2 linked regions of the Homo sapiens genome follow. The protein of the gene in region 1 interacts with the protein of each later gene in a pairwise test. Each region holds a gene or a part of one and is shown on either strand. Other genes may lie near its edges. The genes, in order: EMC9 and SCN5A.

Region 1 (4,526 bases):
GCAGCTGGTGCACGAGCTGGATGAGGCAGAGTACCGGGACATCCGGCTGATGGTCATGGAGATCCGCAATGCTTATGTGAGGAGGCAAGGGCAGGGCAGGGGTGGGCAGAGGCAGCTTTCCCAGGCCACCCACTCCCTGACCCTGCAGGCTAGGGGTTAAGGGTGACAAAGCTCAGCTTCTCCACAAGGCTAGAAATGGGGCACAGAGCCACTGGAGGCCTCTGACTGACCTCTACTCCCTGGCCCTGTAGGCTGTGTTATATGACATCATCCTGAAGAACTTCGAGAAGCTCAAGAAGCCCAGGGGAGAAACAAAGGGAATGATCTATTGAGAGCCCTCTCTCCCATTCTGTGATGAGTACAGCAGAGACCTTCCTGCTTTTTACTGGGGACTCCAGATTTTCCCCAAACTTGCTTCTGTTGAGATTTTTCCCTCACCTTGCCTCTCAGGCACAATAAATATAGTTATACCACTGCCCATCAGCCCAAGTCTCTTTATTGGAACCGGGCCCCGCTGGCCCTGGCTCAGGCATTTCCATTTCCATTAGTGGGACCAACCCACTGGGTGATTTGAGTGTTGAGCCGCTGGTTGGTCCAGTCCTGCCGGATGTCATCAAGGTGGCAGTCAAAGTCCACAAGGTGCTGGTGGGCCCGATCTTCCAGTAGAGCTCCCACCATCTGCCGTGACTCTTCCCAGTCCCTCCACATCACTCTGAAATAGTAACCCCCATGGAGGTCAAACAGCAAGTAGTGGGTCCAGACACAGACTTAACAGAGATTGGGTCTAGAGAAAGACCCTTGGGGCAGGGCCAAGGACAGAGGAGACCCAGGAGCCTTGGGCTTCTAAGAAGAGGTAGAGGGAGTGGGGTACTCACAAGTTCTTATCCTTAGGGACCCAGCGGAGACCTTGGTTCTCCAGGACGATGACCGGGGGCACACGAGGCTGAGGCACCAGTTTCTGATTATCCAACTGAGTGGACAAAGATGGGCAAGTGAGAGTTTCAAGGGTCCCCCCACCCTACTTGCTTTTCACCTCCCCACCCAGAAACCCAAGCCTCACCATAATAAGTACTGCATCAGGGAAGAATTCTGCAATTCGCCCAGCAATTTTCAAGGCCAGGGGCCCAGGGCTGTGTAGAGGGAAGATCAGAGGAGTGAGGAGCCAACTGTGGGCAAAACCCATCCATTTGAGCTGGGCCTCCCAGGTCTCATAGGTGTGGGCGCAGCTGTGGCCTTTCCCTGTAGGTGGCCTGCGGGGATCGGGCCTGCTGGATGCTTGATGCACGACTGCTTGATGCTTGAGTGCTGTGGGAGACAGGTGCTCAGATATTGCTGGTGAGAGTGGAAACCAAAGGTGGTCTTTTTGGAAGGTAATTTGGCATAACCATCCAAATTGAAACTGTATACATACTATACATATGCTGACCCAGAAATTCTACTTATAAAGAATTTATGGTAATCATAGGACAGTGTCTGTAATAAAACACTGGAAACAACCTCAATGTTTAAAGTATTAAATAAATTAGAGTACATTCATATTCAGACTATATAGCTGTTACGGTAGATCTTGGTGTGGAAATGGGATGATGTCAAGTATTTATTAAGTGAGGGAGAAACGCAAATTACAAAACAGTACCTCTAATTGCTCCATGTATATGATTAATATATATATATATATATATATGTCTTTTCCTATATGTATATATATAAGGAAACTGCCTTATTTTTGAAGTTGCTGGTTGGGATTTCTCTGTTCTTTCAGCCCCTGGGGGACACCTCAGTTAAAGCAAGATCAGTCTGTTGGCCGAGAGTGGTGGCTCACGCCTGTAATCCCAGCACTTTGGGAGTCCGAGGCGCGTGGATCACCTGAGGTCAAGTTCTAGACCAGCCTGGCCAACATGGCGAAACCCCATCTCTACTAAAAATAAAAAATAATAATAAATTAAAAAAATAAAAAAAATTAGCCGGGCATGGTGGCGCTCATCTGTGATCCCAGCTACTCGGGAGGCTGAGGCAGGAGAATCGCTTGAATCTAGGAGGTGGAAGTTCCAGTGAGCCGAGATTGCGCCACTGCACTCCAGCCTGGGAGACAGAGGGAGACTCCGTCTCAAAAAAAAAAAAAAAATCAGTCTGTTGATACACAGTTGTCCTCCCCGCCCCAACGGCACTCCAGGGCAGGGCTCTGTCCTATTCATCTTTATATTCCCTCACTCCAGTACCCAGCATAGTGCCTGGTGTAAAGCCCCTGCTCCTAAGCGTTTGATGAAGGAAAGATAAAAGGAACGACCTTGGTTCATCTTGTGCGCCCCCGCCCCGCCCACCGCCCCACGCATCCTCGCCCTCTATTCCTCCAATCCCCAACCCGCCATAATCCTTTCCTTCTTCCTCTGGCTACGCCACTCACCTCTGATCGTTCACAGCTGCATTGGCATGGTAGTAACCAGCCACCACCAGACCGGCCTGTGCTCCCCACACATCCACCTGTCGTAGGAAAGGGGCCATCAGTAATTAAATTGTGCCGCTGGCTTTGTGGATGCGCACTGCTGCCAAGGGACCGGGGATGAACTTGGGCTGGGGTGTTGGGTGGGTTCGCGGTGGGGGATGGGCATCCAACGGAGGCACCTGGTTGAGGGCGACCTCCAACATGACGGACAGGGCCAGGTGGCTGTGGAAGAGGGGCACACAGTCGGTGAGGCACAGGCATTCTCCAGACCGCGGCGCTGGCGCCAAAAACAGCCCGTTGACTGCGGCGTGTGGGTACCGGGCAGCATGCAGGCACATCTTCACGTAGGCCAGGGCCGAGATCTCCACCTCCCCCATGGCGAGCGAGGCCTGGACGGGAAGCAGCAAGCCGGATTAGTACCGGATTAGGCGAGCCGGTGCCTAGCTCGCGTCCGTGAAGCTCCCTCCAGCGCTTCGGCACGCTCTTTGACCCTTCCCCGTGCCCTCTCACTTCGGTTCGGCGACAACGCTAACTCGACTCGCAGGTAGCCCGCCGGCTCCCGGCGCCCTGGGTCCCGGAGTCCGCCCCCGGCCCAGTCCAGGAGGAGGTCCCGATTGCATCCGAGCCCCGCCTTCCCGCGCCCCTAGCTGGCGGCCGCGACTCTGCGCCTGCCTGGGAGACAGACCAAACTGCAGCTCCCTGCAGAACTGGCTCCTGGAGTCCCGCCCACGTGGTGCTCCTTGATAGGGCTAAAGGCTTTCAATTTGTCCAATCAGCGGCCGCGCCCCAACGTTGCCCCGCCTTTGTCTCCAGCGGACTGGAAAGAACCCACCATTGTGAAGCACAGAAAATTGCCCGCACTCTTATTGGCTAGGTTCCCCGACTTCCGCTCTCGGTTGGTGGTTGGCTTTGCCTGTTACCTGTGTTGCCCACTACCACTCGCTCCGCCGAGCCCCAAGGATGGATCGCTATCCCGTAGCCGGGTGTTCCGGAGCGCTGCGGGCAAAGCAGACCGCCTTGCGCCTATTATGGGTTGAGTGGCTCTGTACTCTAGATCGGCTCTGTCACTTACTAATGGGCCGTGTTGCCTTCGCGACTGCAGGTTTTCTTGCCCTTGGTTTATCTTTTGCCCGTGTTCCTTTAAGGATTTAATGAGATATGTATGGGGGCAGGCTTCCAGCCAGTCTAGTGCTTCGCAGCACATTCTTATCTCATATTTTATGACAGGATAAGGCCCTGAATTAAAGAACAATCCCATGGAGTTTACAGCAAGATCACAGCAAAGGAACCCTTGTCTCTATCACCAGCCCAGGGCTGAATCTTGAAAAGCAGAGATAAAGACAGTGATTGGCTGAAGGGGATATGGGGGAGGACAGTAAGAAAAACTTACAGATTCATCCTTCCCATAATGTCCTGCGATGTATTTCCTTCACCACAGTGCCTTGGAAGCATTATTTTTTCCCCTCCTAGCCCTTAAGGAGGGAGTCCAGGCCCGGCGCGGTGGCTCACGCCTTGTAATCCCAGCACTTTGGGAGGCCGAGGTGGGTGGATCGCCTGAGGTCAGGAGTTCGAGACCAGCCTGGCCAACATGGCGAAACCCCGTCTCTATTAAAAATACAAAAAAATTAGCCAGGTGTGGTGGCACATGCCTGTAATTCCAGCTACTCGGGAGGCTGAGGCAGGAGAATTGCTTGAACCCGGGAGACGGAGGTAGCAGTAAGCTGAGATCGTGCCATTGCACTCCAGCCTGGGCAACAGAGCAAGACTCCATCTCAAAAAAAAAAAAAAAAGGGTGGGGGGAGTCCAATCATTCATCCGTAGTTCTCCATAGTTCTCCCAGTGAAACCTTATTCTCCTTCTAGGCTTTTCCTGAACTGATGAGGATTCTTTCTTTCTTCATTCCTGATGTTGACCACAGAACTTTCCCCTTGTGTATCCAAAGCCTGATTATTCCCATAAGGGCTCTGTGCAAATGCCATCTCTTCCAATAATTCCTGAGACCTCTGGATGAAAATAATACTGTTACATTCCAAAATACAGGTTATCTGCATGGCTGCCATGGCATGTAACAATCCCCACCCTA
Region 2 (3,810 bases), on another chromosome or scaffold:
GCATGAAAATCCCATCATGCTAGGCCCCTGTACAGTCACAGCCCCCATGGTTGCTCATCTCTGCGCTTCCTGTTTCCCATGGCCTTCCTTAGAGTAGGGGAGCTCTGGGCAGAGGGACAGGGTAGTTTTGGGTGTTGTGATATCCCCAACCTGAGGCCAGTATCCCGGCACTGGAGCCGGGGCTGGGGGACGAGACCCCATGGTATGGGTTGGTAGGAGTTCAAGGACATGCCCATAAGAGTGAGGGTCCATTCCGAGTGCCCCAGGTCCTCCTCAGGCCGGGCCTGTCTGCAACACCAGGAGCCTTCCTGCCTCCTTCTCCCTTGCCCAGCCTGAGCTCTAACTCCAAGCCCAGTTAAGTTTCAGGCTCCCAGCTCCAGAGACATAGATTTGAGGGGAGTAGACATCCCAGAAGATACAGGATTATCTCTAACCCCACATCCCCTCTTCCAAATACCCCCGGCCCAACCCACCTGGTTCCTGTGTGGCCAAAAAAGCCCTCAATGCTCTGAGAAGTTTAGCTGAGGCCAGTGGCACAAAAGACAGGCTGGGAGCACATGAAGAGCACATGTCATGGTCGTGTCCCCTCTCCTCATGCCCTTAGAATCATCTCAGCCTCACCCGTGGCCTCAGCAGGACTTCTATGAAGCCACGTTCCAGCCGCGGGAGCATTTTCACCTTTCGCAGGCGAGACCTGGGTTCTGAAGCAGATTTTGCAGATGATGAAAACAGCACAGCGGGGGAGAGCGAGAGCCACCACACATCACTGCTGGTGCCCTGGCCCCTGCGCCGGACCAGTGCCCAGGGACAGCCCAGTCCCGGAACCTCGGCTCCTGGCCACGCCCTCCATGGCAAAAAGAACAGCACTGTGGACTGCAATGGGGTGGTCTCATTACTGGGGGCAGGCGACCCAGAGGCCACATCCCCAGGAAGCCACCTCCTCCGCCCTGTGATGCTAGAGCACCCGCCAGACACGGTGAGCCAGCCCCGAGATGCAGGCACCACAGCAGGTCTGGTCTCCCAAACTGATCACCAGTGCCAAGTCCAAAAATACACGTCAAATATTTGTTGAGCACCTACTGTGTGCTGGGCTCTAGGTGCATAAACTTACAAAAAAAAAACTGGGCCCTCATAGAGCATCCATGCTAATGGGGACAGACAGACAAAACTCAAAAGAAAGCCAGGTGCGATGGCTCACGCCTGTAATCCCAGCACTTTGGGAGGCCGAGGTGGGGAGATCACCTGAGGTCAGGAGTTCAAGTCCAGCCTGGCCAACATGGTGAAACCCCATCTCTACTAAAAATACAAAAATTAGCCGGGCATGGAGGCGCGTGCCTGTAATCCCAGCTACTTGGGAGGCTGAGACAGGAGAATCACTTGAACTCAGGAGGCAGAGGTTGCAGTGAGCTGAGATCATGCCATTGCATTTCAGCCTGGGCAACAGAGTGAGACTCCATCTCAAAAAAAAAAAAAAAAAATCAAAAAGAAAAAATGTCTATATTGTGTGTAATGGTGATAAAGAGGGATGATAGTTAACTATGTCACAACTAGTAAAGCCTTCATTACCATCATCTGGGGAAGCCTGTTCCAGACACAAGGAACAGCAAATGTGAAGGCCCTGAGGCAGAACTCTGCCTAGCCTGTTGGAGGAGATGCCACGAGGTCAGTGTGGCTGGAACAGAGGGAGCGACGGGGAGAGAAGTTGCAGTGACTGTTACAAAGGTGATAGGAAGGGACTGGCCAGATTGTGAAAGGCCAATCAGAGCTTTGGTCACTTAGTCAGTTCTATGACAGACTGATGGCTGCCCAATCAGCCATCAGGTGTCCTTGCTGACCCCAGGCCCCCAACACAGTGACCAGAGCAGCCCACCCAGGAAAAAGCTGAACATCTGGCTCAACCCCCAAGGCCTGCAGAGCGCACTTGGAGAGGAAGGTAGAACAGATGGGAGGCTTGACCAGGAAGGTGGAGGATGGCCTGAAGATGCAGGGCTCCCAGCCACGTGGCTTATTTTGTGCCACTCAGACTCTCGCTCAATCTGTGGGACTTGGTACAGGTTAATTAATCTCTTTGTGCCTCAATTTCCTCATCTGTAAAGTGAAAATTATACGCCAGCAAGTTGTGGTGAGGACTGAAAGAGTGCAACTAGGTCCAGTGTTGAGACCAATACTTGCCTGGTCTTAGAGCCATTAGTATTATCTGTTATTGGTATTAGTAAGCAGGAAGGAGTGAGGATCCTGGGGTACACTGCAGAATGCCCAGGGCCCCACACTCCTCTGGAGCACAGGGTGAAGGGAGGAAACTGGGCACCCCTGGGGGCAGACCACAGCTTTAGGTAGAGCTGGGGAGGCCCTGGCCCATCTGAAGGGTGGGGTGTCTAGTTTCCAGGAACACTGAACCAGGCAGGTTCAGCCCTGGAGCCTCAGCCTCATGGAATCGGGTCAGCAGCTGGGAGCGCTAATAGAATTTCCTAATCTCATTAAGGAGAAAATCATCTCATTGTACTGCACATGTCGGGAGGAATCCAAGTTCAAGCACTTCATTACCAGGAATTCTGACTTCACCCATTCTCACTTCTGTGGGGCCCATTTGTAACCTTAAAGGGATTAGCAGGCCAAGACAGGGTCATTTGCAAAGTTAAAGGAATTAGCAAACCAAGATGGAGACATTTGAAGAGTCAAAGAGATTAGCAGGCTGCAGGCCCCTGGGAATGCCTTCTGTGCTTCCACTGGGTCCCCAGTGAGACGTTTCTGCCCAGTTCTAGTCTGAAAACAAAGCACAGGGTTGGGCACACTGTGGGTGCCTAATCAACAAGGATGGGAAGGAAGGGCCAGCCCAGCAGACAGCTCACGTTCAGTTTATCCAGATTGGGAGGTAGGGGCTGAAGACTTACTTTGCCCCTTGCTTGTATGAGACTGCCTGGTTCCAAAAGTCCAGATGGAGGTGGGAGAAGCACACTGAATATCCATTCCTTTTCTCCCCCTACATGTTAAATCTTCATCCTCATTTCCTGTGGCCACCTAGCAAGTTAGGAACAGAGCTGGAACTCTAACCCAAGCCTTCCGATTGATTCCCAAGAATTTATCCATCCAACCAATATCTATCTAGTGCCAGCCTGCCATGTGGCGTGCCAGGCAGTGTTGAGACTCCAGGGTTATAGCAGTGAACAAAGAAGGCAAGATCACTGTCTCTTGGAGTTTATACCGTAGTTAGGAAGACAGTAAACTGATCAATATTTTCAGGTAGCAATAAGTCATGTGATAGAAAGCTGCTAAGGGGAGGGATGAGGATGAGGGCTATTAGAATACTCAGGAAAGGCCTTCCCAAGAAGGTAACATTAAAATTGACAGGCAAATGATTTTAGGGAGCCAGCCCTAAAGATGCAGAGGAACAGCGTTCAGGCAGAGGGAATAGCAAGTGCAAAGCCCCTGAGGAGGACACATCCAAGGGATGAGAGGGACTAACAGGGCCAGGTGTGGTGAAACATTAAAATGAATTTCATGAGTTAGGATTTGGACTGTGCAGGGCCTTCTAGACCATAGATAAGTTTGGATATACTGTGTGAGTAAGATGGGGAGGAGTAGGGTGGGAGGAGTTGTTGAACAGAGGAGTGACATTATCTGATTTACTTTTTAAAGGAATCCCTTTCTACTATGCAGAGAATACAGGGATGAGAAGAAGAAAAGAAGCCAGTTAGGAGGCTGTTGCAGTGGTTTTGGGAAAGAGAAGATGACTGCCTGGACTAGGATGGTGTATTAGTCAGCTATTATAATAATAATGCTGTGTAACAAACTACCCCAGAAGTCAATCTC

The links.
Region 2: the proteins of EMC9 (region 1) and SCN5A interact in binary tests that used the Homo sapiens proteins (3 or more experiments, as listed by UniProt).

Annotation. Positions count from the first base shown.
Region 1 is NC_000014.9:24,138,485-24,143,010, forward strand, and holds EMC9 (ER membrane protein complex subunit 9), read right to left. Parts: upstream 3,108-4,526; 5' UTR 2,954-3,107; exon of another isoform or gene 2,833-2,953; 5' UTR 2,821-2,832; coding exon 2,623-2,820; intron 2,482-2,622; coding exon 2,405-2,481; exon of another isoform or gene 1,306-2,404; coding exon of another isoform or gene 1,209-1,305; exon of another isoform or gene 1,184-1,208; coding exon of another isoform or gene 1,131-1,183; coding exon 1,061-1,130; intron 971-1,060; coding exon 876-970; intron 713-875; coding exon 526-712; 3' UTR 481-525; downstream 1-480. Other genes in the region: PSME1 (proteasome activator complex subunit 1), read left to right, coding at 1-160. UniProt on the Homo sapiens protein: Part of the endoplasmic reticulum membrane protein complex (EMC) that enables the energy-independent insertion into endoplasmic reticulum membranes of newly synthesized membrane proteins.
Region 2 is NC_000003.12:38,600,878-38,604,687, reverse strand, and holds part of SCN5A (sodium channel protein type 5 subunit alpha), read left to right. Parts: intron 1-604; coding exon 605-976; intron 977-3,810. UniProt on the Homo sapiens protein: Pore-forming subunit of Nav1.5, a voltage-gated sodium (Nav) channel that directly mediates the depolarizing phase of action potentials in excitable membranes.